Homo sapiens: one gene and its partners. The protein of the gene in region 3 interacts with the protein of the main gene of each other region in a pairwise test. Each region holds a gene or a part of one and is shown on either strand. Other genes may lie near its edges.

Region 1 (7,247 bases), on a different chromosome or scaffold from region 3:
AGGTTACGGTGAGCCGAGATCGGGCCACTGCACTGCAGCCTGGGTGACAGAGTGAGACTCCATCTCAAAAAAAAAAAAAAGTGTAATTTTTTTCTAGTGGAACCCACTAAAGGGTTTAAGCTTGATCTAATTCACATTTCAAAAACTATTACTGGTCAGGCGTGGTGGCTCACGCTTGTAATCCCAGCACTTTGGGAGGCTGAGGTGGACGGATCACGAGGTCAGGAGATCGAGACCATCCTGGCTAACATGGTGAAACCCCGTCTCTACTAAAAATACAAAAAAATTAGCCAGGCGTGGTGGCGGGTGCCTGTAGTCCCAGCTACTCAGGAGGCTGAGGCAGGAGAATGGCATGAACCCGGGAGGCAGAGCTTGCAGTGAGCCAAGATTGCGCCACTGCACTCCAGCCTGGGCGACAGAGCAAGATTCCGTCTAAACAATACACACACACACACACACACACACACACACACACACACACACACATACACACATATATACTACAGCTGCTCTATGCCTGCTGTTTGGAGGTTGGAAGGAAGGTGAGGGGCTATACCATTTAGGTGCCAATTACAATGTCCAGAAAAAGGGTGAAAGCAAGTTAGCTTCAGTGACTTTAGCTTTAGTTAGCTTTAGTGGAGATGGAGAGAAATAAATGAATATGATATACGTTGGAGGTAGAGCTGCCAGAATTTCCTATTTAGATTGGATAAGGAAAGAACAAGGGGAAAAGCAGAATCCAACATGGCCTGCAGGTTTTTGGATAGTGGACGATGGGGTTATTTATTGAGATAGAGGAAACTGGGTTAAGAAATGGTTTGGAGGTTAAAAGAAGAAAAAGAACAAAAACAGACCAAGTTGATTAGATGTGACATTTAAATAAATATTCAATAATGTTTTTCCTTTCCTATAAGTAATTATTTAGTATTTAAAATATGACTTCAAATACATTAAATATAGGTATTAAGGCTAGACTGTTTTATGTGTTTTGGCTAGATATGGGCTACCTGCCAGTTAGTCAAAATGTCTTCCAAAGCTGCTAAAACAAACAAATCAAACTAAAAACCAAACAAACAAACAAACAAACAAAACCCAGCCCTTTCTTCAGAAAAATTAAGTGGAATTACAAAATATGAAGTATTCTGGTTGAATTGAGGAAGGCAGCTTGTGGCCAACCTGTCCCAAAACAGCCCATGGGGTACTTCACTGGAATTTCTGGGGTTCCTGGGAGACAGTCTGGAATATATCCAGGTTGGTTTAAACTAAGGAGCTGAAAGGAAGATGAAAATAAGAGAATACTGAGTGGGCAAAGAAGGGCTGAATGATGATGACACAGCTTCAACTTAGAAGCTGACTGCTCCTTTAACTCCATTATTTTGGAATACCTCCTTCTATCAGCACAGAGCTTTGAATTTCAAGGTAGAATAACAATAAAACTCAGTAGTGAGAATGCACTGGTAGTGAATAGAGGCACAATAAAGGAAAAATGTTTTGTATTTTGAAACATGTATATGTGGTAGTAATATCTAAGTAAGGGCACTATTAATAAATGTTATAAAAGTTCACTTACAGACTTTGGGAAGGAAAAGGAAACGTTCTGAGTTTGTGTAATAAGACAAATGCAGTAGATAGGTCCTTTTAGTCTAGTTTATTAAAAATCATTTTACCAAGGGAACAATCCAAGTCAGGATTACCTTCTCATTCAGTAAAAGTAACAAACGATCTCCAGTTTATTTTCAAGGCAGTCGCCTTAAAGGGCAAATCAATATCATATTCTAAAGTGGAACATTTCTGATGTTTACAAAATTCACTACTGGACTACAAGAAGTGGACTTAAGGTACATGATTTAGTAGAATTTATATCCACAAATCATTGGGAATTCAAGCAAAATATTTTTCCTACTAAGTAATGCTTACATTCTCAATTCTAATAATAAAGTTGGGAATATCTGTTTTGACAAAGTCACATTAAAAAGTCTATATAGGGCCAGGCGCAGTGGCTCATGCCTGTAATCCCGGCACTTTGGGAGGTGGATCACCTGACGTCGGGAGTTCGAGACCAGCCGGGCCAACATGACGAAACCCTGTCTCTACTAAAAATACAAAATGAGCCGAGCATGGTGGCACATGCCTGTATTCCCAGCTATTCGGGAGGCTGAGGCAGGAGAATCGCCTGAACCTGGGAGGCAGAGGCTGCAGTGAGCCGAGATTGGGCCATTGCACTGCAGTCTGGGCAACAAGGGTGAGACTCCGTCTCAAAAGAAAAAAAAAAATCTACATAGTTTTTTCTACATGCTTAGAGCAGCATTAAATGCTTCCAAAACAATTAAGAAAATAACTTTGCCTAATATTTTCTTGAGCTTTATAGTAATATAAGGGTTAATGTTTTACCTTTATTCAAAATTCAAGAAACAAATGGCTCCCTGATCTTACCAGTCTCACAGTAGGGTTCACCATCCTCCAAGTGAAAAACATTGTTCCGAATGGGCTTTCCACAGGCTACACACACAAAACAGGAAACATGCCAAGTTTGTTTCAACGCACTGATGACTTCCTGTTACAGAAAGGTAATTGGATGTAAAAAAAGAAGATGACAATAAATACATAAATGTTTATTCTAATATCTGTACCAGTAAATCCCTGTAGAGCTAATCCAAAGTAGGCACACATACTTCATTTTTGTCTTGAGCTTTCCCTCAAAGTAACAAGAGATACTTAAGAACAGACTCACAAATCATCTAAACGGATGCATATTTAGACGTGTGTTCTTTACAAATGCCAATCAATAAACTTAAAGAATGATCACTATGTTATTTATACATTATATGTACAGTGAATAAAGTAAGCATTTCATAAATGCTTGCTACAAAACTTTCTGCTTCTTCTCAAAGGGTGTCAGGAAACATTAACTTACCAAGGTTTTATGGTATTATCTGCAAAAGTTCTGGGGGAAGGAGGAAGCATTTAAAAATTAAAACAAACCTATACTTTGGTGCATTTTAGAAGCAATAATATAATATATATAATTTAATAACAAAACATAATGGGGCCGGGCGCAGTGGCTCACACCTGTAATCCCAGCACTTTGGGAGGCCGAGGCGGGCGGATCACGAGTTCAGGAGATCGAGACCATCCTGGCTAACACGGTGAAACCCCGTCTCTACTGAAAATACAAAAAATTAGCTGGGCGTGGTGGTGGGTGCCTGTAGTCCCAGCTACTTGGGAGGCTGAGGCAGGAGAATGGCATAAACTCGTGAGGTGGAACTTGCAATGAGCCGATATCGCGCCACTGCACTCCAGCCTGGGTGACACAGCAAGACTCCGTCTCAAAAAAATAAATAAATAAATAAAAATAATAAAATATACATAATTATATATAGTTGTATATATTACATGTATATAATGTATATAAATGTATATAATGTAATAAAATATAATAAAAATATAATGTAATCCAATCAGTTTAACACGTGTTTAGGCTTTTGGAAATCAGCTAAGATGGCACTAAGCACAGACTCGAATGTGTAAAATTTGGACCATATTCTAGTCAGCAATGGCCCAATGGTTAAACATACCAAGTTATAAAGATTTGGGCCAGATATTAGTTAGTAAAAGAGGTTTTGGGTGTTGGTTTTACAAGAAATCATTTCTTTGGATTGAGAGAAAGATGGAGCCATTAAAATAATTTTGGATGAGTAGTGAATACTCTTTCTATAATATTTATCACAAAAAATCATATACATAAAGCATGATTACAATTTTGTAAACACATTACTTATAAAGAGCAAACTAGAAAAAAACACATCATAAGGTTAACAGTAATTATCTGTGATTGGTAAATATTTAGGTCATTTAAATTTATTCTTTAAATTTTTTGTGTTTTCTAATTGTGCTTGAGTGAACTATTTTCTTTTATAAAAAATATCAAAATAAAATGAAATAATATAGACTTATTAGCCATAGAAATTGTCACAGTTCACTACTGAAGGACAATGGGAAGAAACAGACATTTAGATCCAAAAAATTCACCATGAACATTTGTAGAAGATGTATATTGAATCAAACTATCTCCCAAGGCTTCCAGAATATTCTTCCCTTTCCATCCTTGAGAGAAATCTTTAACAGGTAATCAAATAACTAAAATACAATCTAGACAAGCTATTGAAGTTCTGGCCCATCTCCAAGGCAATGAGTATGAGATTTCCATTTCCCAGAACTTTATTTGGGTCTAAGACTCTAACTTCACTTTGTTTTGTTATTCTAACATTTATAGAATACCTTGATACACTAAAACAGTATTAATGAATATTCTATTAATTATTTGTTATCATTTGGGAAGGTACAGTCTGAACCATTCCACTTCTTTGTTCCCAACATATTACACAAATCAATAATCTAGAAATATTTCAGGTGACATATATATAATTTTAAGTGTCTTCAACGTTTCAGACATATTTAAGGATATCCTAAGAGATATCTTAAGACTACTCAATAATTCATACTACCTATTCTCTCAATTAACAATAATTAGAGTTTCATTATCATATTTTCACATTGAGAGTATATTAGAGTTCAGCAGGGCCATGTCCAATTTTTGTGTGAAGCCAGGTACTCTGGCTTCTTCTGAAATCAGATTCCAGCTCCTAGTCACCATAAAGTATGCCTGACCCTTACTTTATCATTGGAAACTAGGTATTCCAGAGCAAGAAATTCATGTATTCATTATTTATTATGTACTGTATCTGATTCCTAAATTACTCCTTTTTTTGCAAAAAAGGAAAAAAAATTATTTTTCCATCACATGTGCACTCTCATAAAACTGAGGTTATATTTTTAAACACTGTATGTATTCAAGAAAAATATATCATTTATAAACCTCATGTTTTATATATTTCATGAAATCAGTGTCCTGTGCTTGAACTCTGACAAGTAGGGAAATACTGCTCTTATAAAAGCTATGGAATTTAATTTAAAACAGTGAAGGTGTCAGTTCTAAGAACTCAGATGTGTGTGGTCCTATGCGACCTCTTCATTCCTGAGCAAACAGGCTCCTGTTGAGGAAGCACACCCACAGTAAATTATTTTTTCCCCACAGTGGCTAGACTTTCACCAGACAAGCCAGCACTCAGTGAGACAAAACCAAAGACAACCTAACCCCATGAGTCCGATATATTTCCACAGAGGTCTATTTAGTTTTGCTTTACAATAATAAATAGTGCCGAAAGCAGAGAGGGCATAAAGCAAGAAGAAAATAAAAAGTTAAAGTGATAGAAGACTTTCATATCAAAAAATTATTCTACTTTAAAACTCATTCAGAATAAAAACGTTTCCAATACTTACTCCAAGGATCTTCCTTTGGCATCGACCACATTCAGGGGCAAAGAATTTCTCATAGCACAGCTCACAATACAGGGCTCCTTTCTCCTCTACAAATCCAATGTAGGCCATTGTATTTTTGCAGTGAGCGCAGTTGAATTCTTCTGGGTGCCAAGATTTCCCCAGTGCCACTAAGAATGGTCCTCTGACAGAAGAAAAAGAGGCCAACTAAGTTTGAGAATAAAATTTCTAGAGTTAGCCTGGATATGGACCTCTTTTATGCAATGTCCAACCAATTAAATACTTGCTCAATTTTCCTTCTTAAGGACTGAACTCATGGGTGTTGGGTGTTGTAAATTCACAGAGGGACTCTGCATTGATGTGAAAAGAAAACGGGAGACGTGCACTTAAGGGATTCCTTCAAGAAAGGGCACTCCCCACCCTTTTTCTGCCTAAGGGAATTTGGTGATGTTTTATTGAGCTGAAATGAGGCAATCTGTCTGCATCATGGGTAGGATTGAGAATGAGGATGTTAACTGTGACTGTGACAGAACATGAGGCAACCAGAAAAAAATATATGGTTTAGGCAGAGATGAGACTTTGACACTTCTACAAAAGAAACAAACAAAAACTTCAATTTGGTAAGTCATAGTGCTAAAAATAGTAATAACTATTACCTGAGACAATTTCTCTTCCCCACAATTTCTCTTCCCCACACATTCTTTCATGTATTTATTTCTCAACTTTACTAAACACATCAAGTCCTCACCCTCCAAAATGACTACAGGAACTGTAAACTAGGTATTATCAATTGTCTGAAACTACTCAGAAAGGTTTCATTTCACTCAAATATGACTGATTTATTTCAAAAATTTAATTTTATTGTGGTAAGAACCCTTAAAATGAGATCCACTCTCTTAACAGATTTTTAAGAGTACAATGTAGTATTGTTAATTATGGGCACAATGTTGTACAGCAGATCTCTAGAACTTATTCATCTTGTATAACTGAAATTTTATACCCACTGTGCACCAACTTCCCTCTCCCCCCTCCCCAACATGACCGATTTTTAACACACATTTGTATCAAGGTAACAAATGTTTGTAAGAGATTTTTTTCCCCATTAAATACTTTATGGTCATGAACTGATAAGATGGGCTTGGTTTGCTTGGCAGGAATCCATTATGAAGCCTTATCTAGTCATGAAGCCTGCAGAGACTAACCATTCTAGCCTCTGCAACATACTTTTCAGTAGCTATATCACACTAATTTATATTCATAGAGCAGCTTTACCTCCAAGGCACTTTTACACTTATCTAATTTGTCCATGCAACATTCCTGTGAGACAGACCAGGACAGTTATTATGAATTCAGTTTAACAGATGGAGAAGCCAAGGTACAGAATGTTCAAAAGATATGACAAATATCATAAAATCACTGACCCAGCCAAGGCCAGAAGTTGAATTTCCTGATTTCTAGTATGCCGCTCTAGTCAACTGATATTCTGCCTTTGACCTCATTAACATCACTTATCATCCCTAAGCGACCACATGGTAATTGTTGGTAAGCATCAGACACCAGACTTCCAGGCAGATTATTAACAGGAGAAGTCATAGCAATGAGTATCGCAAAGTCACAGCATTTTTAAAATTCTGACAATAACATAAACCTTGCTATTCAATAACTATCTCCCACTGTAAATTCTTTGTCACCATATTGATGTTTACTCAGAATCAGCACCTAATTCTGCAAGAGTCACAAAAGGAGAAAGGCTCTTGATGAGTGATTAAAAATTTTTACGTGGGGTGTAAGAGGGTATTTTCTAGCCCTACTTTTTGTTAACTTGTTTCTTATTAATAACATGATGCCATTTTGTATAAGCTAGTACATATCATTCTCTTAAGTTTGAGATAGGCAGTTTATTATTATTA
Region 2 (6,529 bases), on a different chromosome or scaffold from region 3:
CGATGTTAAAACAAATTAAAAACACCTAAGTGACTACCACTTATTTCTAAATCCTCACTATTTTTTTGTTGCTGTTGTTCAGAAGTTGTTAGTGATTTGCTATCATATATTATAAGATTTTTAGGTGTCTTTTAATGATACTGTCTAAGAATAATGACGTATTGTGAAATTTGTTAATATATATAATACTTAAAAATATGTGAGCATGAAACTATGCACCTATAAATACTAAATATGAAATTTTACCATTTTGCGATGTGTTTTATTCACTTGTGTTTGTATATAAATGGTGAGAATTAAAATAAAACGTTATCTCATTGCAAAAATATTTTATTTTTATCCCATCTCACTTTAATAATAAAAATCATGCTTATAAGCAACATGAATTAAGAACTGACACAAAGGACAAAAATATAAAGTTATTAATAGCCATTTGAAGAAGGAGGAATTTTAGAAGAGGTAGAGAAAATGGAACATTAACCCTACACTCGGAATTCCCTGAAGCAACACTGCCAGAAGTGTGTTTTGGTATGCACTGGTTCCTTAAGTGGCTGTGATTAATTATTGAAAGTGGGGTGTTGAAGACCCCAACTACTATTGTAGAGTGGTCTATTTCTCCCTTCAATCCTGTCAATGTTTGCTTTACGTATTTTGGGGAACTGTTGTTTGATGTGTATGTGTTTATAATTGTTATACATTTTTAATTGAGCCTTTTATTAACATATATTGTTATTTTTGTCTCGAAATAATTTTTTAGTTAAAATCTATTTTGTCTGATATTGGTGTGAATGCTGTACCTTTCTGACAATAAATAATATTCGACCATGAATAAAAAAAAAAAAAAAGTGGGTTCCCGGGAACTAAGCAGTGTAGAAGATGATTTTGACTACACCCTCCTTAGAGAGCCATAAGACACATTAGCACATATTAGCACATTCAAGGCTCTGAGAGAATGTGGTTAACTTTGTTTAACTCAGCATTCCTCACTTTTTTTTTTTAATCATCAGAAATTCTCTCTCTCTCTCTCTCTTTTTCTCTCGCTCTCTTTTTTTTTTTTTTTTTACAGGAAATGCCTTTAAACATCGTTGGAACTACCAGAGTCACCTTAAAGGAGATCAATTCTCTAGACTGATAAAAATTTCATGGCCTCCTTTAAATGTTGCCAAATATATGAATTCTAGGATTTTTCCTTAGGAAAGGTTTTTCTCTTTCAGGGAAGATCTATTAACTCCCCATGGGTGCTGAAAATAAACTTGATGGTGAAAAACTCTGTATAAATTAATTTAAAAATTATTTGGTTTCTCTTTTTAATTATTCTGGGGCATAGTCATTTCTAAAAGTCACTAGTAGAAAGTATAATTTCAAGACAGAATATTCTAGACATGCTAGCAGTTTATATGTATTCATGAGTAATGTGATATATATTGGGCGCTGGTGAGGAAGGAAGGAGGAATGAGTGACTATAAGGATGGTTACCATAGAAACTTCCTTTTTTACCTAATTGAAGAGAGACTACTACAGAGTGCTAAGCTGCATGTGTCATCTTACACTAGAGAGAAATGGTAAGTTTCTTGTTTTATTTAAGTTATGTTTAAGCAAGGAAAGGATTTGTTATTGAACAGTATATTTCAGGAAGGTTAGAAAGTGGCGGTTAGGATATATTTTAAATCTACCTAAAGCAGCATATTTTAAAAATTTAAAAGTATTGGTATTAAATTAAGAAATAGAGGACAGAACTAGACTGATAGCAGTGACCTAGAACAATTTGAGATTAGGAAAGTTGTGACCATGAATTTAAGGATTTATGTGGATACAAATTCTCCTTTAAAGTGTTTCTTCCCTTAATATTTATCTGACGGTAATTTTTGAGCAGTGAATTACTTTATATATCTTAATAGTTTATTTGGGACCAAACACTTAAACAAAAAGTTCTTTAAGTCATATAAGCCTTTTCAGGAAGCTTGTCTCATATTCACTCCCGAGACATTCACCTGCCAAGTGGCCTGAGGATCAATCCAGTCCTAGGTTTATTTTGCAGACTTACATTCTCCCAAGTTATTCAGCCTCATATGACTCCACGGTCGGCTTTACCAAAACAGTTCAGAGTGCACTTTGGCACACAATTGGGAACAGAACAATCTAATGTGTGGTTTGGTATTCCAAGTGGGGTCTTTTTCAGAATCTCTGCACTAGTGTGAGATGCAAACATGTTTCCTCATCTTTCTGGCTTATCCAGTATGTAGCTATTTGTGACATAATAAATATATACATATATGAAAATATGTATTTGGTTTCTGCCTCCAGTTCTTACAAAGAGCTCCTAAAACCCTTGTAATTTCCTGAGTAGTAGGGGTGCTAGGGTCATCTTTTGTTCTAATATTTGGTCTTTGACTCTGCTTTCTGACAGAGCTCCTTAGTCCCTGGGTGAGAGTAGCATCTTCTCTTCTAATGAAGTGACTCTTGCTGGGTTCCTGGATGGGGGCTGGTCACCAGAAAGGTCAAGCCATGATAAGAAGCTTGAAGCTTTTGGCCCCATTCACATCTTCTGGGGACGGGAGAGAAGAGGAGCTGGAGATTGAGTTAATAAGCAACAATGCTTCCATGATGAAGACTCCATAAAAATCCCTAAAAGACAGGATTCAGAGTGCTTTGAAATAGGTGAACATGCAGAGGTGCTGGGAATTGTGGTGTGTCCAGAGAAGGCATGCAAGCTCCCCACGCCTCCCCCATACCTTTCCCTGTGCATCTCTTCCATCTGGCTGTTCCTGAGTTGTATCCTTTTATAACAAACTGGTAATCTAGTAAGCAAACTGTTTTCCTGAAGTCTGTGAATCACACTAGCAAATTATCAAACCTGAGGAGAGGGCCGTGGAGACCTTGGATTTGTAGACAAGTCAAACAGAAGCTATGAGTAACATGAGGACTCATTGCTTGTGATTGTCATCTTCAGTGGGAAGGGGAAAAATCTTGTAAAACTGAGTCCTTAACCTGTGGGTCAATGCTAACTCCAGGTAGATAGTGTCCGATTTGAATTACGGGACACCCAGTTGGTAGCCACAAAGAATGGGAGAATTGCTTGGTGTAGAAAACACACCCCACACACACATGTGGTGTCAGAAATGAACCGGAAATATTGTGTTCCGGAAATATTGAGTGTTGTGAGTGAGTGTATAGAAAGAAAAACAGCGTTTCCTTTTCACTACTAGATTAAAACAAACACACTCATGCATTCACACATCTCAAAGACAACTATTAATTCTCAAAGACAGTGCTGTCTAAATCCATACTGAGGAAGAAAACACATTTTCTTTTCAAATCTGTAAACCTGACAGACTGCCTCTGTCCACACACTAATGGAACTCTGTGTTTCATCTGAAATGTGTTCATCCCACTTTGTTCTTTCTGTCTTGGGCAGGGCAAGAGTGCAACAGGGCTGACATTTTCATATGAGCTCTGTCCCTGTTATTGGCTATACTTTAGACAAATTATTATGTGTCAAATATAGATGTAAGTGATTTATCAATATTAAGTCATTTAATTCTCAAAACAACCTTAATAGGTTCCATTATGATTCTAATTTTACACATAAGCCAAAGGAGGCACCCACAGGCTAGATAACTTTCCCACGGCCACACAGCTAGTAAGCGGCAGAGCCAAGAGGCCCAACATTACAGCACCACAGTCTGTGCTCTCAGCCCCTTGGCCACATAGTGTCAGAGTGAGGACACACAGCTATTTAAGAAAACTTCCAGAAGTCTAGGAAATGGGGTGATAGCCCCACTTTTCTAGGTATAATAATTAGATATTTGTTTTTCTTCAGGTACCTAAAGAAAATTTACTAGAGTTTGAGCCTTTAGTAAGTTTTGCTAGTACATCTGTTTTTCTTCAGGTGCCTGAAGACAAACATATACACACACACACACACACAAACACACACAAAATGTGTATCTATATATATGTGTACACATATCTCTCATCTCTATATATATGTCTCTGTATATCTATATATCTATAAACATATCTATATCTATAGATACATATAGAGAGATTTCTTTTTTTTTTTTTTTGAGATGGAGTCTTGCTCTTGCCACCTAGGCTGGAGTGCAATGGCACAATCTCAGTTCACTGCAACCTCCGCCTCCCAGGTTCAAGCGATTCTCCTGCCTCAGCCTCTCGAGTAGGTGGGATTACAGGAACACACCACCTTAGCCCGACTAATTTTTGTATTTTTAGTAGAGACAGGGTTCACCACGTTGGCCAGGCTGGTCTCAAACTCCTGACCTCAGGTAATCCACCTACCTCGGCCTCCCAAAGTGCTGGGATTACAGGTGTGAGCCACCATGCCTGGCCAAGATTTCTAATTCTAAGAGAAATTAGCACCTGATAGGTATTTCCTTGTAAATAAACCGGGCATATCCTGATTATAGAACTAAGTTAATTATTTTCCGTGGAAGATACGAATGTTGATGCAATAAGAGCAGCAGTCTACAGTAAGGTGGGCTTTGTAATTTTCTGTGTTGAATCATGGCATGGGTACTTGGCTTATGTCAAATAGACAAAAAAATATAAATTAAGGTATAACTGGGATTGTCAATTATACATATTTAGTAATGGAATGAATGAATTTATAAATAGATAGTAAAGGGCATGAATTAAGAATCTATAGGTATAAATAATATTAGCAACTTAATATTGTATAATAAAGTTTGATTTTCTAGGTGTAGTTGATTGATGCAGTAATGTTCGTTTTATCCTTTGAGTAAGCCTAGAATTGAAGAACCCAAAATGCAATAGAATAGATATAACATTGAAACTATTCCTAAATATGATTTTAGTTCCAATGTTCTTTGTGTAATTACCTAAGCTTTTCTTTAATGTTTTTGCTGCTACTACAGTATCCTTAATTATTTGAAATCTTATATTGGAAGCAGTTAAACCACATTCCTTCAAAGAGCCCTTAGTTTGAGCCTCTAGTAAGTTTTGCTAGTATAATTTGGTTTTAAAATTGGCTAGAATTGCATAGGGAATTTCCATAACGTATAGTTGATCTGCAACTATAGGTTAACATACTAGGATGGCTTCTCTTATGAACCTTATGAAAATACATCCTCAGATTCCCTGGAAGGTCAGTGACCAGAAATCCTCGTTGTTTCTATGGCAACACAGCAAGATATGGTGCCTTGGAAATGTGCTGCATTTTAATTAGGTTCCTCTAGGGCTTCCTAACTGCCTTTTGCAGGTAAACTAAATATCAGATTGCCTTTTATCTTGCAACAAAATGAAACCTAACCCATGTCTGTAAATGTCAAAGCTAAGCTGTGTTCCAGTAAAGCTGAATCCAAACAAATATAGTAGCAAGTCATGTTTTTATCTTAGAAAAGAATACAATACTCTTTACCTAGAATAGTCAAGGATGCTGCTTAATGAGGTAGGTTAGAGTAATAGAGACTATCCTGAACTCCAAAACTATTAATAGACTATGGAACTTCGACTCCCATTTATGTCTCTTACTACTTAATATTAGTGTCTCTGTTTCCTTATATGTAAATATGCAAATGATAAAAATAGTGCCTCATAGCATTGTTGCATGCATTAAGTGAGTTAATGTAAGTGGAATACTTAGGACTGCCTGGCTGATAGTAAGTGATCTATGAGTCAATGATGCTATTTATTAGTAGTAGTACTAGTACAGCACACTGTATTTTTAAAGGTAAATAAGAAATAACAATTTTTTTAAATGTTCATATACATTCACATGTCTTCTTTTAATATAAAATAGCAATCAAGATCAGGATAATGGTAGAGATATTTTGGAGACACAAGGCAGAAGCTATTTACTAATAGCTAGGGGAGCATTTTACTAGTTTACTAACCAATATTACTATACTTATGTGTACTTAGCAGAATATCACCTAGCACCAAAAAGAAATTAAGAAAGTGTAACTTACTGAGAAGTGAATATGCACCAACTCCATAAACACTATGTTTATGGAACACATCTAACTTTAGACTTAGCTATACTCATCGACTCACATATCTTCTCATCCAAGTGGGATGTGTTTAATATTTACCATATATTCATAAGTTCACTGAGTATTGTTCTGGTAACTAGAAAAAAAAAAGGACAAGCATATATAAGTAAAACTCACTGATTTAAAACAGAGTATTATCAACTACAAAAGAAAAAAAAAACCACTTGAACCTCCACTGATTTCTCAAATCTCATTTATTTCCCATTATCTTCCCTCATACCTCTTGCATTTATTTGGTTAAATTTCTTTTTGATCCAAAAGGAAGCAATGTTTACCTGACAATTTCTACTTTATGCCAGAACAACAAATGTACCAGCAATTACAATATTTCCAAGAAAAGTATTGTTTGTTTTCTCTTCATGTCTTTGGTGAGTCTCTCGGAATTAGGATCAAAAAAGAACGCATGAGCTGGTGAGATGTTTGTTATTGTCCTCTGTCAGATTTTCCTGTGCAGCAGTGTGGAAAGTAGGTAAGTAGGGCAGTGCATACTTGTCCTT
Region 3 (7,247 bases):
TATCCCAATTGTGGCTACCTATTGATATATTTTTAATTTATTAAAAATAATAAATAATTCCACAGGATTGGAAACTTCACAAGGCAGAGACCAGGTCTCACCAATACTTATTCAGCATCTAGCACCATGCCTAGCATGTTGGAAGTGCTCAATAGATAGTAGTTCATTGAATGAATGAATGAAAGAGAGAGGGAGGAGAGTAAGGGCAGAGGGGAGAGAAGGAATGAGGTGAGGGAAAGAGGAAAGGAAGGAGGAAAAAAAAACTACAGAAAAGGGTAACATGTTCTGATGTGGAGTTTTCTAAAACATGGTACATGCACCCTCAGATACCTACAAAATGGTTTTAGATCTTTCAAAAATTTTTATACAATAATTTACATTAGGTAGGGTGTAGTGGCTCACACCTGTAATCCCAGCACTTTGGGAAGCCGAGGTGGGTGGATCATGAGGTCAGGAGTTCGGAACCAGCCTGGCCAACATGGCGAAACCCCATCTCTACTAAAAATACAAAAATTAGCTGAGCATGGTGGTGGGCGCCTGTAATCCTAGCTACTCGGGAGGCTGAGGCAGGAGAATCTCTTGAACCCGAGAGGCAGAGGTTGCAGTGAGCCGAGATCACGCCACTGCACTCCAGCCTGGGTAACAAAGCAACACTCCATCTTGAAAAAAAATTACATTAATTCATTATGGCAAGTGATACTGATTTTCTACCTACGATAATGGTATAAAATTTCTTTGTAAAATACAGGCTGGGCGCAGTGGCTCATGTCTGTAATCCCAGCACTTTGGGAGGCTGAGGTGGGCGGATCACCTGAGGTCAAGAGTTCAAGGCCAGCCTGGCCAACATGGTGAAATCTTGTCACTACTAAAAATACAAAAATTAGCCAGGCATGATGGCGGGTGCCTGTAATCCCAGCTACTCAGGAGGCTGAGGCAGGAGAATCACTTGAACCTGGGAGGAGGAGATTGCAGTGAGCCAAGATAGCACCATTGCACTCCAGCCTGGCCATTGCAGTGAGACTCTGTCTAAAAAAAAAAAAAAAATTTCTTTGTAAAATACATATAATCAGGTAAATATTGGAAGTTGATTAAAAGAACAAGAAAAGCTAGTAATAGTGCAGAAGACACTTGAAGATGGCAAATTTTGTGACTATAATGTGCAAATGATTGAATTTTGGGGCATTCAGATGAGTGGAAGAAGCCAAGTCTAGAAGTCATGGTCCCTGGGTTGTCACCCTCATCCTATCTTAGCTCAGAGGGGTGACCCTGGGCAGACTGCTTGCTTAACTTCCCTGTACCTCAGCTTTCACGGATTTCAAAAGGGGACAGGTAACATCACTTGCTTGACACAGTACAAGCATTGTTACATCGTAGAGATGGCTGTGCTGAGAAAGCATAAGGGGTTTTCCCATGTGAGGGATGATTCCTAGGGCAGGGTCAGTCTCTGTATTATGTATCTAAATCCAGCAGGACTGCATGAATTTCCAGTGTACCAGATCTTTTCTGATTGGCTCTTGAGCCACAGTGATGCTGTCGTGGACACAGGTGGGCGGTGCCCACCCTCCCTCCCCTCCTCTCTGTTCTCCATCACAGGTCCCTGATGAAGACAGGCCACAGGTAAGGAAGGTATGGAAGTGGCAGAGGTGATGTCAGCACAGTTGAGTTGCTTCTGTTCCCTCTGAAATGCTGGAGGACACAGATGTACACAGTGCCTCATCTCAGGAAGCACAGACATGCGCTCCTCTTCCCACCAGAAGAGCAAGTCATCTCAGGCCCCATTCTCTTGGCAGCAGTCCTCTGCACTGTGCCTGAACTCCCAGTGGCAACTGCCCTTAATCCTTCCCATTCCGTGGTGATGAGCAGAGGTGGGAGGGAGAAAGCTGGACAGAGAAAGGGAGAAGGGAGTGTGTGTGTGTGTGTGTGTGTGTGTGTGTGTGTGTGTGTGTGTAGGGGGAGGAGCCCAGGAGAGCACAGCCATGGGTGAGGGGCAGTGACTCACAGCTTTCAAGATGCTGACAGCCTCCTTGCTGAGCCAGACTGGGTACAGCACGTCGTCATGGAGGATGGACTCAAATAGGTCGTCCTCATTGTCGGCCTCAAAGGGAGGCTGTCCAGCCATCATCTCGTACATCAGCACCCCCAGGGCCCACCAGTCCACGGAGGGGCCATACTCCAACTCCTGCAGGATCTGTTCAGGAAACCAGCAATGTCAGGCACCATCAAAGGCTCCCACCCCAGTGACACCCGTGCTACGAACGCCCATGGGAAGGACTTCAATTCCAACTTGCTCCTCCCTACAGTTGAGTCCTAGTCCTAGAAGTTCTAAATCAGCAAATTCAGTGACAGTTGAGTTTGGAGGCACTATGCTGGGGGCCAGCTATCATCTTTCCAAAGTCAACATCGACAGTCTGTCTTCCAGTGGGAACAAATTCCTATTTCTTTGAGCACCAGATAAAGTTCCTGACTGGCATGAGGGCCACATTTTAAAAAACTGCATATTTTGACACTAAAATCAGGGTCAGGGGAGCACGATGCATACTGAGAGAACAAGCTGTAAGTGACTCAGAGTGCAGCGAGGTCAGGTCTCCCATCTCACACAGTCCAGGGCACAGCTCACTGCCTGAGTGGAAAGGTGAGCAGAGGTCTTCTTTAAATGGTGCAACACTCAATTTACCTGAGCCCTGTGCTCCTGGAGAGGAAACTGCAATGAATAAGTCTCCCCCACCCTGTAATGGTCTCCCTATAAAGGACCACTATACTCTTGCATATTCTAAGAAAAAACCCATCTCTATTGTTCATCATGATTCCCATAAGATCCACTGAAGAATCCCCCACTTTGCCTGCCTCTACAAAACCGTAGGCCCCCTTCCTTTGGGGCCACCTTCACTAATGAACCCCCTATTGCAATAGCCAGAATCGAACCATCTCCTTGATTGTCTGGTGCATTTTGTCTTTGACAATGGTCACTTGTCTTATCTATGCTGTCTCTCTTTTTCCTCTAGCCAAATATGTAGAGTCAAATTCACTTAGATTAAATGCATGTATGACATGATGCTACTGAATACAAGACATCTTTTCTGGCTGGGCGCAATGGCTCACACCTGTAATCCTAGCACTTTGGGAGGCTGAGGTGGGAGGATCACTTGAGTCCAGGACTTCGAGACCAGCCTGGGCAACATGGTAAGACCCTGTCTCTTAAAAAAAATTAGCTGGGCATGGTGGTACGTGTCTGTAGTCTCACCTTCTCAGAAGGCTGAGGTGGAAAAATCACTTGAGCCCGGGAGTTTGAGGCTGTAGTGAGTCATAATCATGCGACTGCACTTCAACCTGGGTAACAGAGTGAGACCCTATCTCAAAAAAAAAAAAAAGGATCTTTTCTGATTGGCTATTCTATTTGATCTGCTCTCCATACACATATGTCATAAATACATGATACACACACACGCACATATAAATATGTAGCATGTCAATGACATATATATATAAATACATATATATAAATACATATATATAAAAATACATATATATATATATGGAGATGACATCCAATAGAAAAGACTAGAATTTAATATCACCTTTCAGCTGTATAGAGCTTTGTATTTTACAGTATGCCTTTAAAATATAACATATATAAATAAAATAAATATGTAGCAGATCAATGATGTGTTTGGCTCAGAGGAAAAATAAATGCTGAGCTGTCCACTCTACAAGGAAGAGATCATGAGGTGACATTCCCATTCCACAATTATTTTCTCTTCTTATTAGAGTGGGATTAGGCATGGCTCTGCCCAGAAACAGGAGGGTGGATGAGATGACCTATCCAGGTCCATAATTCTATAAAGAATTTTAAAAAGGGAAGGAGAAACAAGGTTGGAGTGCATATCCTGCAAGGGGGAACACTTTGAGGACCCTGAAAAAAAAAGGCAAAGTTCATGCCTAGTCATTCCAGCCCATGGGACACCTTGGGCAGATAATATCTCAGGCTGGGGACAAGGCTCCAATTTAGTTCTCAGATTTCATGGTGGCCAGGGAAGAGGAGGCTGAATTCAAGTATCTGGACTTTCTGTGGTCTGCTCAAAATACCCTTCTAGAGGTTACAAATTGCTTAGGATGAACTAGAAAGATTTGGATAGAAGAAGCATTTAGAAACAGTTAAAACACTCACAGTTTAGAATCTTCTGAATTTGGAATGAAAAGGAATTTGAGAAAATGCAGCCAACTCTACATTACTTGGGGCTGGTAATCTGTTTAGCTAATACCTTTGGTCTAAGCCCAGTGGTTAGTGTTCCTTGAGCTGTAAGGTCAAAGCTATGGGCTCCACTGTCCTGAGGAGCCAGTGATTCTGCTATGCTCCAAAGCCAATGCCAACTCCTCCCTCAACCTCAAAAGACACAGCGCCCAACTTAAGACCCCTGCCTGTTCCTACGAGTTGCAGGCACTTTCTCACTTTCCACATACCACTACGTCGTTAGTTATTTTTTCATGGCCAGCGGTCTCCCCAGTGCAACTATAAGGTACCAGAGGGTAGGAGCTGTAACATGCTACTGAGCCCAGTGCTGTGGCCAGCCTGTTCTATCATCCAGGAGACAGTCAACATCTTGTGACTGGCTAGCATGCATGGCCACTGTGTGTATCTACTGGGCATGCTCCCTTCTCTTCTAGCCTCAGGGCACACTGGGTGCTACAGTGGCTGCCCTCCAGCTTCTCGGAAGGAGGCAGCTGGGTTCTGTGCCTTCAGGGGGTGGGGAGAAGGTGGCTTGTGTGTGCTGAGACTGGATGGTGCTGTGGAAACCACAGAGCCGCCCTGCCACCCCACTCCAGGCCCCTTCCACAGCCTTCTCATTTTGGGTGGCATCTTTTGTAAGATTCCTTTTAGGCTTGGCTCTAATTATCTGCTTCCTAATTAACTGTCGGCAGTGGATCTGGGCAGAAGGGCAAGGCTTCCATGTCACGGGAAGTCACCTGGAGCCAACCCCTCAAGTGCGTCAGAGCTCGGGAGAAGGGAGAAGGGAGAAGGCATTGGCCCTGATGATGCTATTACCAAAGGCTGGTGGCCACTTCCTGGGAAGCAGGGGCTGGGAGTGGGAAAGCAGAGGGGGTGCCATGGGGCATATCATGTGGCAGGAAGATAAGCCTTGGGGCAGACCTCATGCCTCCAAAGCTGTCTCTGGTTTTGAGGTTAGCTCAGCACCTTACCACCTCTCCCATTTGAATGGAGGCTTCTGCTTTCTCAAGCATTTCCATGCTCTAATCTCATTAGATTCTCAAAGCAGCTTGATGAGGTAGGTAGGGAAGGAGTTATGGCTCCCATGTGAAAGATGAGAAACCTGAGACTCAAAAACATTTTGTGACTTCATCAAGTCATCAAATGCTCATGTGTACATTTGTGGTCAAATCTGGACTCAAGACTCAATTCTCAGGATTGCGTTTCCTATCCCATCACACAACCCAACAATGATGATAACCATGAAGCCACCATTTAGCCAGCACTCCCTGTGGGCTGGGCACTGGGCTAATGCTTTAGAGGCATAATCTCATTTAATCTTCCCAGTAGCCCTCGATGAAGGCAGCAATACCTTTATCAGCTGTAATTTGCCTACAGCAAGACCAGGGATTGTCATTGCCAGTGCAGAGATGTTTCTGCACGGTGGGCACGAAGGCCAGAGCAGGAAGGAAGAGTGTCTGTGCTTCATTGTGAACAGAGATCAGAGTTGTTCATTGTGAGTCTCACCAATGGACTGCTTTTCATGAAAGCTGAGTGGCTATTTTGTTCATTATAAAGTGAATGTTCTGTCTTGGGTTGGGTCCTTAACTATAACATGGGCTGTCAACTGTTAGGCTCTGGCATCAACTTACAGAGGAACTGGAACTGAGTATTCTGACAATGAAGAATGAATGATGGCATCAACTTAGAGAGGAACTGGAACTAAGTATTCTGACAATGAAGAATGAACGAAGAACACGAGAAAAGCAGTTCCCTGTCGAAAGCTCTTGCTTTCATTTGTTGCTCCTTGAAGGCTGAATTCCTAGTGTTCTTGCTAAGGAAATACATTTGCAGAAAGACTGAAATCCCTACTCTTTAGATCTCTTAGAAGATAAAGGTTCTAAAGGGAAACTACCTATTACTCATCACCTTCACTTCGAGATGTTCCTCAGGCCTCCCCTGTCTTGTGTGGTCTGTGAAGCCTCCTGACCATCAGTCCCTCACTCCCTGCCTTCTGATCTGCACAGCTGTGGCCTTCCTTCTTCCTGGGATGGATCTGACTAGGACTCTCCTCCACTGAAACCCTGAGTGGGTCCACAGATCCTACAGGATCAAAGCCACATTCACTGGGTCTTTATCCCAATCTCATTCATTACTATGAGCACCAGGAAACCCTATGATCTAGCTACACTTTTTAACTGTCCTGGAAAAGACCAAGATGTTTTTGTCCCTTGGCCTTTGCTCATGTTGGAATGTCATAAGTTGTCATTTTTTAACAAACCTTTCTAAGATCCTGATTTGTGTGCCGGATCCTGGCAGTACCCAGATTAGAAACACAGACCCTGCCCTCAAAGGATCCAGGGCCCAGGGACACTGAACCTCCTTTCCTGTCCTGCCCCCGTTCCAATCCTGTTGTTTTCAGGAATACCCTCCCCACCCCTTCCGTCAAAGGAAATCCTCATTCTTTACAACTCAATTCATCCACCAGGTGCTCCAAGAAGCCTTTCCTGATCCCTGAGGATACCATCTTCTTTTATGTGCCTATTTATTCTGCTTAATTAGTTGTTTACTTATCTATCACTCCCTTTAGACCAAAAGCTTCTTTAGAATAGGGACAAGTGTCTCAGTCAGTTCTTTATCTCCACATTGCTTTGTGCCTAGCACGTGCTCAAACAATGCCCACTGAAAGAAATGAGCTCTGAATGTGCTAATACCTATCCGCCATGGGCGATGTTTAGTGGGGATTGGTACTTCTTTCCTATCTTACATGTCTCAGAACCATGAAGATCATTTTGATTGTCTATGACAGGCCATGTCTTAAATCTGAATCACATCACACTAGTTATCTCTCAGTTTGGGCAGGAATAAGGCAAACAAACACTTCATGCTGAGCAAAACATCCCAAACAACTTTCAGGAAAGGCAACCTATTGGAGTGGTTCACAGTGAACATCTCTGATATCTGTATATAATGAGGCACAGTCACTCTCCTCTTCCTGCTCCATCCTGTGTACTCACAGCATAGAACTGCCACTATGCAGGAA
Region 4 (5,971 bases), on a different chromosome or scaffold from region 3:
CTGTTATAAATATTTCAGCTTTTGTATCTTGGCCAGATACACCAAACTATAATCAGATTTTACTTCAGAGTGAAACACAGCATGCTCAAAGTAAATCAGACCACTGAGGTTATTAAAGAATGGCATTTGGACCACTTCACTCATGCTATTTGTCTTTTGCCTTTAAAGAGGGTGATTACCCTAAGGAGTTTCAACTGCACTATGACATGCAACAGAAAGCCACCTATTGGTTGGAGGGTCATCTACCTATTAGTATGCATTAAACAAGTCAGCCAAAATAAAGAAGCATGCAGGCTTTTCCCTTAAAAATGATGTAACAGGTAAAAGTTACATTCACTTGTACTTTTTTAAAAAAACCACTTACAATTACTACACAGTTAACTAGTTTGAAACAAAATAAATGAAAAATCAACCCAAGAATCATAAATGTTCAAATGACTATCCATTCATAATGCTTGTTAAATTATTTAATTAGGATGGACAAATAACACCAAACTAGCTGCCTACACACATGAAGCATTTACACTGAGTACAGCTTTGAAACAGCCTAAATGATCTCAAAATGACAAATGTCACAGCATCAAGGTTTCAGTAGTTTTCAAATCTCTTCTGCGGCGGAAACGCTTGACATTGCTGTGTGACTTCAAAACCCACTTACAGCCTCAGCAACACAGTGAAGCCCTGTCTCTACAAAAAATGAACATAACGCCGGGCACGGTGGCTCACGCCTGTAATCCCAGCACTTTGGGAAGCAAAGGCGGGCGGATCACGAGGTCAGAAGATCAAGACCATCCTGGCTAACACAGTAAATCCCCATCTCTACTGAAAAAATAATACAAAAAATTAGCCTGGCGTGGTGGCACATGCCTGTAATCCCAGCTACCTGGGAAGCTGAGGCATGAGAATTGCTTGAACCCAGGAGACGGAGGTTGCAGCGAGCCAAGAACATGCCACTACACTCCAGCCTGGGTAACAGAGTGAGACTCCGTCTCAAAAAAAAAAAAAAAAGAATAAATAAAACTAAAAGTAAAAAACTATGTATGCTGGAGCCAGGCATGGTGGCTCACGCCTGTAATACCAGCACTTTGGGAGGCCAAGAGAGGTGGATCATGAGGTCAGGAGATCGAGACCATCCTGGCTAACACAGTGAAACCCTGTCTCTACTAAAAATACAAAAAAAAAAAAAAAAAATTAGCCAGGCATGGTGGCAGGCGCCTGTAGTCCCAGCTACTCGGGAGGCAGGAGAATGGCGTGAACCCAGGAGGCGGAGCTTTCAGTGAGCCAAGATTCTGCCGCTGCACTCCAGCCTGGGCGACAATCGAGACTCCGTCTCAAAAAAAAAAAAAACTACATACGCTGGGCATGGGGCCACATGTCTATAGTCCCAGCTACTTGGGGGGCTGAGGTGGGGGAGTTCTATTTCTGCAGTGAGCTTTGAACGCCACTGCACTCCAGGCGGGGCAACAAGAGCAAAACTCCGTCTCAAAAAAATGTATAAAATTTTAAAACTACTTAAAATACATGAAGATCTTTAATTCATAAGACAGAAAAAAAATATGCAAAGGCAAAAAAAAATTGCTTAGGGATGAAAGAACTGATGGGCACCCAACTGTTCTCCAAAGGACAATAACGTATTCAAACGTAGGAAACATGATAGGAACATTCACTCTAACAGCAAATCACTGCCAAAGTATCATTAACACAAACACTAGAACACAACTCGCTTGTAAGCAACCATGAGATGTGCCAGAAGTTCCAAGTAACTTTGGCATAAAAATGTCACTGTCATATACATCACATCCAACCACAGTAGGCAGGAGGAGCAGGCCGGAAAAGGCTTAGGTCAGCGCCCTGGAAGGTGGAACAGGCAGAGTCTGTAAGCAACAGGACGATCATACGCAGGCATGATTAGTGAAGAACCAAAACTGAAAGCGGAATTCACTGTGCCATGAACGTGACTTACAAAGTAGAGTTTTTAGGAAAGGAAGAGTTGGGTTTTCCTTTAGGAATCTATATTGCAAGGAAAAAGGGAGGGAGAACAATCATATGAAAGCAACATTACAAGAAAAATAAACCAACAGAGCAGGACAAAGGAAAACAATGATACAGGAGCCGGACTTTGGTCTTACTTCGTGTAAACTTCACTCTAAGCAACAATCTGTCTACTCCTCCTCCCTTCTACTCTGAGAAGGAAGTAATATCCTCTTGAAAGACATACAGATATTAGGGGAAAAAGGATTCCTTGGCTATGTTTCTTTGCCCAGTGTATCTACATTTTGGAGAGAGGGGAACAGGCAGGGAGAACATGTATTTCCTACCTATGGATTCGTATATGAAACAATCCTCTTACCACAGGGTGAAGAGACTAAAATCACTTGAGAAAAAGCAATGATCCCTCCCTTTAAAGAAATTATGTTCCAACATGCTGGGACAGACATTAACATATTCTAAAATTAAAAGACATAAATACCGTCTCTTTAAAAAACAAAAAAATCTAAATAATCCTTAAACTAAATGCAAAGTCACATCCTAGTAAACTGCCACTTTCATGACGATTCTCCTATATTCACCACGGAACCCAAGTCACAAAAGTAGTATTTTATTTTGTGAGATGAAGTTTTATCTTGCCCAAGCTGGTGTCAAACTCCTGGGCTCAAGTGATCCTTCTGCCTCACCTTGCTGAACAGCCGAGATTACAGGCAGGCACCATTGCAGTTTCAAAACCAATTTATTAAAAAATGTAGGCCGGGAACAGTGGCTCACGCCTGTAATCCCAGCATTTTGGGAGGCCGAGGCAGGCGGATCACGAGGTTAGGAGATTGAGACCATCCGGGTTAACACGGGGAAACCCCGCCTCTACTAAAAATACAAAAAAAAATTAGCCGGGCATGGTGGCGGGCACCTGTAGTCCCAGCTACCAGGAAGGCTGAGACAGGAGAATGGCGTGAACCCGGGAGGCGGAGTTTGCAGTGAGCCAAGATAGCACCACTGCACTCCAGCCTGGGTGACAAAGCAAGACTCTGTCTCACGAAAAAAGGAAAAAAAAAAAAGATGTAATACTAGGCCAGGTGCGGTGACTCGGGCCTGTAATCCCAGCACTTTGGGAGGCTGAGGCAGGTGGATCACGAGGTTAGGAGATTGAGACCATCCGGGCTAACACGGGGAAACCCTGTCTCTACTGAAAATACGAATTATTGCCAGGCGTGGTGGTGGGCACCTGTAGTCCCAGCAACTCAGAGAGGACGAGGCAGAAGAATCGCTTGAACCCGGGAGGTGGAAGCTGCAGTGAGCAGAGATTGCGCCACTATACTCCACCCTGGGCAACAGAGTGATACTCCATCTCAAAAACTCTAATTTTTGACAAATTCAACTTCTCAAACTGATGAACAATTTCTTTGTACCCACAATTATTTGTGTATTCAGAGTTTGTTAGTTGTACCGGAATGTCAACAGACCACCTGAATTTTTCACTGTTGAACTATTTCATGACTGGAAGCATTATATAAATAAAAAGTATTTCACCTAATAAAAATTAAGTGAAAATTACTCTTCTTAACCAAATTTAATCAACTGATTTACAGACTCAATAAGGAATTGAACACAAATGAATTTCACTAGATTTTTTTTTTTTTTGAGACGGAGTCTTGCTCTGTCGCCCAGGCTGGAGTGCAGTGGTGCTATCTCGGCTCACTGCAAGCTCCGCCTCTGGGTTCACCCCATTCTCCTGCCTCAGCCTCCCAAGTAAATGGGACTACAGGCGCCCACCACCACGCCCGGGTAATTTTTTTTGTATTTTTAGTAGAGACGGGGTTTCACTGTGTTAGCCAGGATGGTCTCAATCTTCTGACCTCGTGATCCGCCCGCCTCAGCCTCCCAAAGTGCTGGGATTAACCGGCGTGAGCCACTGCGCCCAGCCGAATTTCACTAGATTTTTAAAAACTGCGAAAGTATTACCCTGTATTTTTTTTTTTTGGACGAAGTTTCTCTCTTGTTGCCCAGGCTGGAGTGCAACGGCGCGATCTCAGTTGATCACAACCTCCAACTCCCAGGTTCAAGCGATTCTCCTGCCTCAGCCTCCCCAGTAGCTAGGATTACAGACATGTGACACGACGCCTGGCTAATTTTGTATTTTTAGTAGAGATGGGGTTTCTCCATGTTGGTCAGGCTGGTCTCGAACTCCTGACCTCAGGTGATCCACCCGCTTCGGCCTCCCAAAGTGCTGGGATTATAGGCGTGAGCCACTGCACCAGGCCGTATTACCCTATTTTAAGATGATCCATTTCCTAAAACTGTACTCGACAACCAAGAATAAGGATTATCTTTAGTTCTGTACATAGACTGACAGGTAGTCTACTTTGATTAATCAACTCTTGGTTATCAGTGATAATGAGCTACAGAAGTAATCCAGACTTGGTTATGAGTTGGTATCAAATGTGTTTTCTTGTTTTGTTTCGTTTCTTTGAGACAGAGTTTTGCTCTTGTTGCCCAGGCTGGAGTGCAATGGAGTGATCTTGGCTCACTGCACCTCTGCCTCCCGGGTTCAAGTGATTCTCCTGTCTCAGCCTCCTGAGTAGCAGGGATTACAGGTGCCCGCCACCACACCTGGCTAATTTTTGTATTTGTAGTAGAGACGGGGTTTCTCCATGTTGGTCAGGCTGGTCTCAAACTCCTGACCTCAGGTGATCCGTCCACTTCGGCCTCCCAAACTGCTGGGATTACAGGCATGAGCCACTGTGCCCAGCATATGTTTTTATTAAAATAATAATAATAAAAAAAAATGGCCAGGCGCAGTGGCTCACGCCTGTAATCCAAGCATTTTGGGAGGCCGAGGCAGGTGGACCACGAGGTCAGGAGTTAGAGACCAGCCTGGCCAACATGGTGAAACCCTGCCTCTACTAAACAAACAAAAAACTAGCTGGGTATGGTGGCGCACGCCTGTAATCCCAGCTACTCAGGAGGCTGAGGCAGGAGAATCCTTTGAACCCAGGAGGCAGAGGTTGCAGTGAGCCGAGATCGCACCATTGCATTCCAATCTGGGCAACAGGGAGAGACTCCGTCTCACAAAACAAAACAAAAAATCAGCCAGGCGCGGTGGCTCACACCTGTAATCCCAGCGCTTTGGGAGGCCGAGATGGGCAGATCACAAGGTCAGGAGTTGGAGACCAGCCTGGCCAACATAGTGGAACCCCGTCTCTATTAAAAATACAAAAAATTAGCTAGGAGTGGTGGTGGCAGACACCTGTAGTCCCAGCTACTAGGGAGGATAAGGCAGGAGAATCAGAGGCAGGAGAATCACTTGAACCCAGGAGATGTAGGTTGCAGTCAGCTGAGAGAGCACCACTGCACTCCAGCCTGGGTAACAAGAGCAAAACTCCATCTCAAAAAAAAAAAATAAAACACACACACAGAAAAAACTTTCAAGTCAGGTCACTTTCATTACTTATTACTTTTACTCTCAAAAACATGTCCCCAGAGGTGAGAGGTGTATCATTTCCTGAAGTCAATCCCGCGCCCCAAACTCTCCGCATGCTTTCCCTCCATCAACAGGCAGAGAGATACTAGCATCTGAGCTGGGGATGACCATTACGAGTCCACAGCTGTTTGACCATTCTTCTTCATAATTGTTGTTACAACTTTTTTTCTTCCCTGAAGAGATGGCATCTCGTTCAGTCATCCAGGTTAGAATACAGTGGCGCAATCGAAGCTCACTGCAGCCTCAAGATCCCCCAACCTCAGCCGTCTGAGAAGCATGCGTTGTCACACCTGGCTGTTGTTTTTGTTTTTTGTTTTGAGACAAAGTCCTGCTCTATGAAGCCTCGCTCTGCCACCCAGGCTAGAGTGCAGTGGGGCGTGATCTCAGCTCACTGCAACCTCCACCTCCTGGGTTCAAGCAATTCTCCTGCCTCAGCCTTGCAAGTAGCTGAGATTACAGGCACATACCACTGCACCCGGCATTTTTTTTTTTTTTAAA
Region 5 (3,500 bases), about 56 Mb from region 3:
GCAGATCAGCTGACACAATCTCCTCCTAATGAAAACATCTGGTTCTACAAAATTCATTTTGCCCCAGTGGATGTCTTTACCTCCAATTAAGAACGAGAGATGCTACACTTAAAAGATAACACTTAGAGAATCCCTCACAAAAGTTTAAGTACTTGCTCCAAAATGCAAATTTTTTTATTTTATTTTTTCTTTTTGGAGGAGTCTGGCTCTGTCACCCAGGCTAGAGTGCAGTGGTGCTATCTCGGCTCACTTCAACCTCCACCTCCTGGGGAAGTTCAAGCAATTCTTCTGCCTCAGCCTCCTGGGTAGCTGGGACTAGAGGCACGCGCCACCACGCCCGGCTAATTTTTCTATTTTTAGTAGAGATGGGGTTTCACCATGTTGACAGGCTGGTCTTGAACTCCTGACTTTGTTATCCACCCGCCTCGGCCTCCCAAAATGCTGGGATTACAGGTGTGAGCCACCGTGCCCGGCCCCTAATGATTTTTAAAAGCCAGACAATCTATATGGCACTTTACCACTGAGCAATCGAAAGCAATTTTAGCACTTTAACCACCCCACCCCCGCCTTTTTTTTTTTTTTTTTTTTTGAGACAGAGTCTCATTCTGTTGCCCAGGCTGGAGTGCAGTGCCATGATCTCAGTTCTCTGCAACCTCCACCTCCTAGGTTCAAGCGATTCTCCCACCTCAGCCTCCCAAGTGGCTGGGATTACAGGCGTACACCACCACGCCTGGCTACTTTTTATATTTTTAGTAGAGATGGGGTTTTGCCATGTTGGCTAGGCTGGTCTCCAACTCCTGACCTCAGGTGATCCGCCCGTCTCAGCCTCCCAAAGTGCTGGGAATCCCAAAGCTCCTCCTAATACTGTGGGCAAACCGTGTACCCACTTAAAGGGACATACCAAAGCCTGCAGAGAACGAGTGAATTCAACATGTTAAACCTAGCAAAGAGTAATGCCCAAGTATCCACCCCAACCTCTCCTCCTCTCTACCACCACTGCCACTATCCCGCCTCGGCCTTCACCTCCTGTCACTGGACCACTGCCCAAGGCCAACCATTTTACCAGCTCCTTCCCAACACACATCTGGATCAAGTCCCCTACTCTAAGGGATCCCCAATTCCAACAAAATCTTTCAGTGACTCCTCAATGCTTAAAGAAGATGTCTCTCCTCAAGTCCAAATAATACCTCCTTGAAATTCCCACTACTCCCTAACCTTTCTACCATTCCCAAAGGTCACTCTTAGCCCTACTGCCACACACAAACACCTCACCTCTCCCCTCCCTTTCTTCAATAAATGAGGGGTCTAACATGAGCACAGTGTCAAATGGGCATCGAATGAGCAAACTCTTAGCGTTAGCTCCCCTTACCATCAAGGTCTTTGGGCCTAGGGTACCCTTGTCCTCAATCTCCAAGGTCCACATTGTACCCTTCCTCCAATGACAAGATCAGAATGGGTCAGTCTTCCACAAAATCTATGGTCCCTCCTTTGAGTGAACCTTGATTTCAGACATTTTACCTGCTGGATTCTAAACTCCCTGACTTCCACGTTACTGTTACCGGATTTCCCCTCTGTCAGTCCTTCCAAGACTCAGAATTGTCCTCAGGCTGGCAATCTTCTTTTCTTTTCTTTTTTTTGAGACAGAGTTTCACTCTTGTTGCCCAGGCTGGAGTGCAATGGCACAATCTCGGCTCACTGCAACTTTCACTTCCCAGGTTCAAGTGACTCTCCTGTCTCAGCCTCCTGAGTAGCCGGGATTACAGGCACCCCCCACTACACCCGGCTAATTTTTCGGTATTTTTAGTAGAAACGGGGTTTCACCATGTTGGCCAGGCTGGTCTCGAACTCCTGACCTCAAGTGATCCGCCCACCTGCGCCTCTCAAAGTGCTGGGATTTACAAGCGTAAGCCACCGCGTCCGGTTGACAATCTTTTATTCAAGACATTTGGAACACCAGCCATCACATGCTCACAAAATGCAAAATAACAGTAGTTACCCCAAGAACACAAAAATGGTCAAATAAATATTTAAAATAACAATAAGGCCGGGTGCAGTGGCTCATGCCTGTATACAATCCCAGCATTTTGGGAGGCCAAGGCGTGCAGATCACTTGAGGCCAGGAGTTCAAGACCAGCCTAGCCAACATGGTGAAAACCCATCTCTATATACAAAAATTAGCTGGACGTGATGGCACGCACTTGTAATCCCAACTACTCAGGAGGCTGAGGCAGGAGAATCACTTGAACCCGGGAGACGGAGGTTACAGTGAGTAGAGATGGTGCCACTGCACTCCAGCCTGGGCAACAGAGCAAACCTCCGTCTCAAAACAAAATAACAATAAAATCCAAAATAACATGGAAACAAACTTGATTTATTTCTGGTTTTAATTTTTCACACTATCATTCTCCTCACTGATCATACCAGACACTTCTCTTATAAATATATGGTACTCTGAATGTAACCTTGTGAAGAGAAATTTACAATTTTAAGTTTATGAGTATCCGTCTCTCAAAAACCTAAGGGTGAAAATAAATTTCTCTAAACAGAATACACCCCGTTTTTCACCTCCTTCTTTTAAGATGAAGTTACATACTGTTCAACTATACCAGACCATTTACCACTGTTGTCAGAGACACAGAAAATTAGAAGTTATCCCCAAAAAACTGGATCAAGTCCCCTACTCTCAGGGATCCCCAATTCCAACAAAACCTTTCAGTGGCTCCTCAATGCTTAAAGAAGATGTCTCTCCTCAAGTCCAAATAACATCTCCTTGAAATTCCCACTACTCCCTAACCTTTCTACCATTCCCAAAGGTCACTCTTAGCCCTACTGCCACACACACCCCTCCCCCTCCCTTTCTTCCATAAATGAGGGGTCTACCATTAGCACAGTTTTGCAGGAGAGTCGTTCGCCCCAAAAGAAGCTATTTCATACGACATATCAAATCTCAGAAAACTCCCTCTTTTCAACTCACTCACTTCATGTAAATATAGTTGCCTCAAAATAAGCAACATCTGCGCTAATGAAAAATAGAAAATATGACACTAAAATAAATTAGGACAAGTTGTTCAGCTTACAGATTTTTTTTACCTGAAATTATGTTTAAAAATAAAGACCTTTTTATAAATAACAATTCAGCAACAAGTATTTCTCAAACTTTAATGCTATTCATCCTAAAGGATGTTTAGCAGCAATAAACAAACTCTAAAGTGTTAATAATGTAATCCCAAATCTACCACAAGCAAATCATACCAACAAAAATCCTAAATTAACTCCTACACATAATTGTAAATGGTTCTAGAAATTAAATAGTTAAAAAGAGGAAAAAAAGAGATGTTCTGCTATTTTCACCACTTCTAAGATTGAAGTTCCCAGTACCCGCTTGTAAACATTAAAGAACTTGTTATAGTAAAAAAAAAAAAAAACACATTTTACTGATGTATGAGACAATCAAGAAAACGTTAATAGTGAATATATGACATTTTTCTAAGTGTGATAAC

Evidence for each region.
Region 1: the proteins of PRKCE (region 3) and PDLIM5 interact in a two-hybrid assay, tested with the Homo sapiens proteins (one study listed by BioGRID).
Region 2: the proteins of PRKCE (region 3) and SNCA interact in binary tests that used the Homo sapiens proteins (3 or more experiments, as listed by UniProt).
Region 4: the proteins of PRKCE (region 3) and YWHAE interact in binary tests that used the Homo sapiens proteins (3 or more experiments, as listed by UniProt).
Region 5: the proteins of PRKCE (region 3) and MAP4K4 interact in a two-hybrid assay, tested with the Homo sapiens proteins (one large-scale study listed by BioGRID and IntAct).

Annotation. Positions count from the first base shown.
Region 1 is NC_000004.12:94,652,734-94,659,980, reverse strand, and holds part of PDLIM5 (PDZ and LIM domain protein 5), read right to left. Parts: intron 5,522-7,247; coding exon 5,341-5,521; intron 2,555-5,340; coding exon 2,434-2,554; intron 1-2,433. UniProt on the Homo sapiens protein: May play an important role in the heart development by scaffolding PKC to the Z-disk region. May play a role in the regulation of cardiomyocyte expansion. Isoforms lacking the LIM domains may negatively modulate the scaffolding activity of isoform 1.
Region 2 is NC_000004.12:89,719,852-89,726,380, reverse strand, and holds the end of SNCA (alpha-synuclein), read left to right. Parts: 3' UTR 1-2,282; downstream 2,283-6,529. UniProt on the Homo sapiens protein: Neuronal protein that plays several roles in synaptic activity such as regulation of synaptic vesicle trafficking and subsequent neurotransmitter release.
Region 3 is NC_000002.12:46,145,982-46,153,228, reverse strand, and holds part of PRKCE (protein kinase C epsilon type), read right to left. Parts: intron 2,189-7,247; coding exon 2,000-2,188; intron 1-1,999.
Region 4 is NC_000017.11:1,345,999-1,351,969, forward strand, and holds part of YWHAE (14-3-3 protein epsilon), read right to left. Parts: intron 1-5,971. UniProt on the Homo sapiens protein: Adapter protein implicated in the regulation of a large spectrum of both general and specialized signaling pathways. Binds to a large number of partners, usually by recognition of a phosphoserine or phosphothreonine motif.
Region 5 is NC_000002.12:101,700,707-101,704,206, reverse strand, and holds part of MAP4K4 (mitogen-activated protein kinase kinase kinase kinase 4), read right to left. Parts: intron 1-3,500.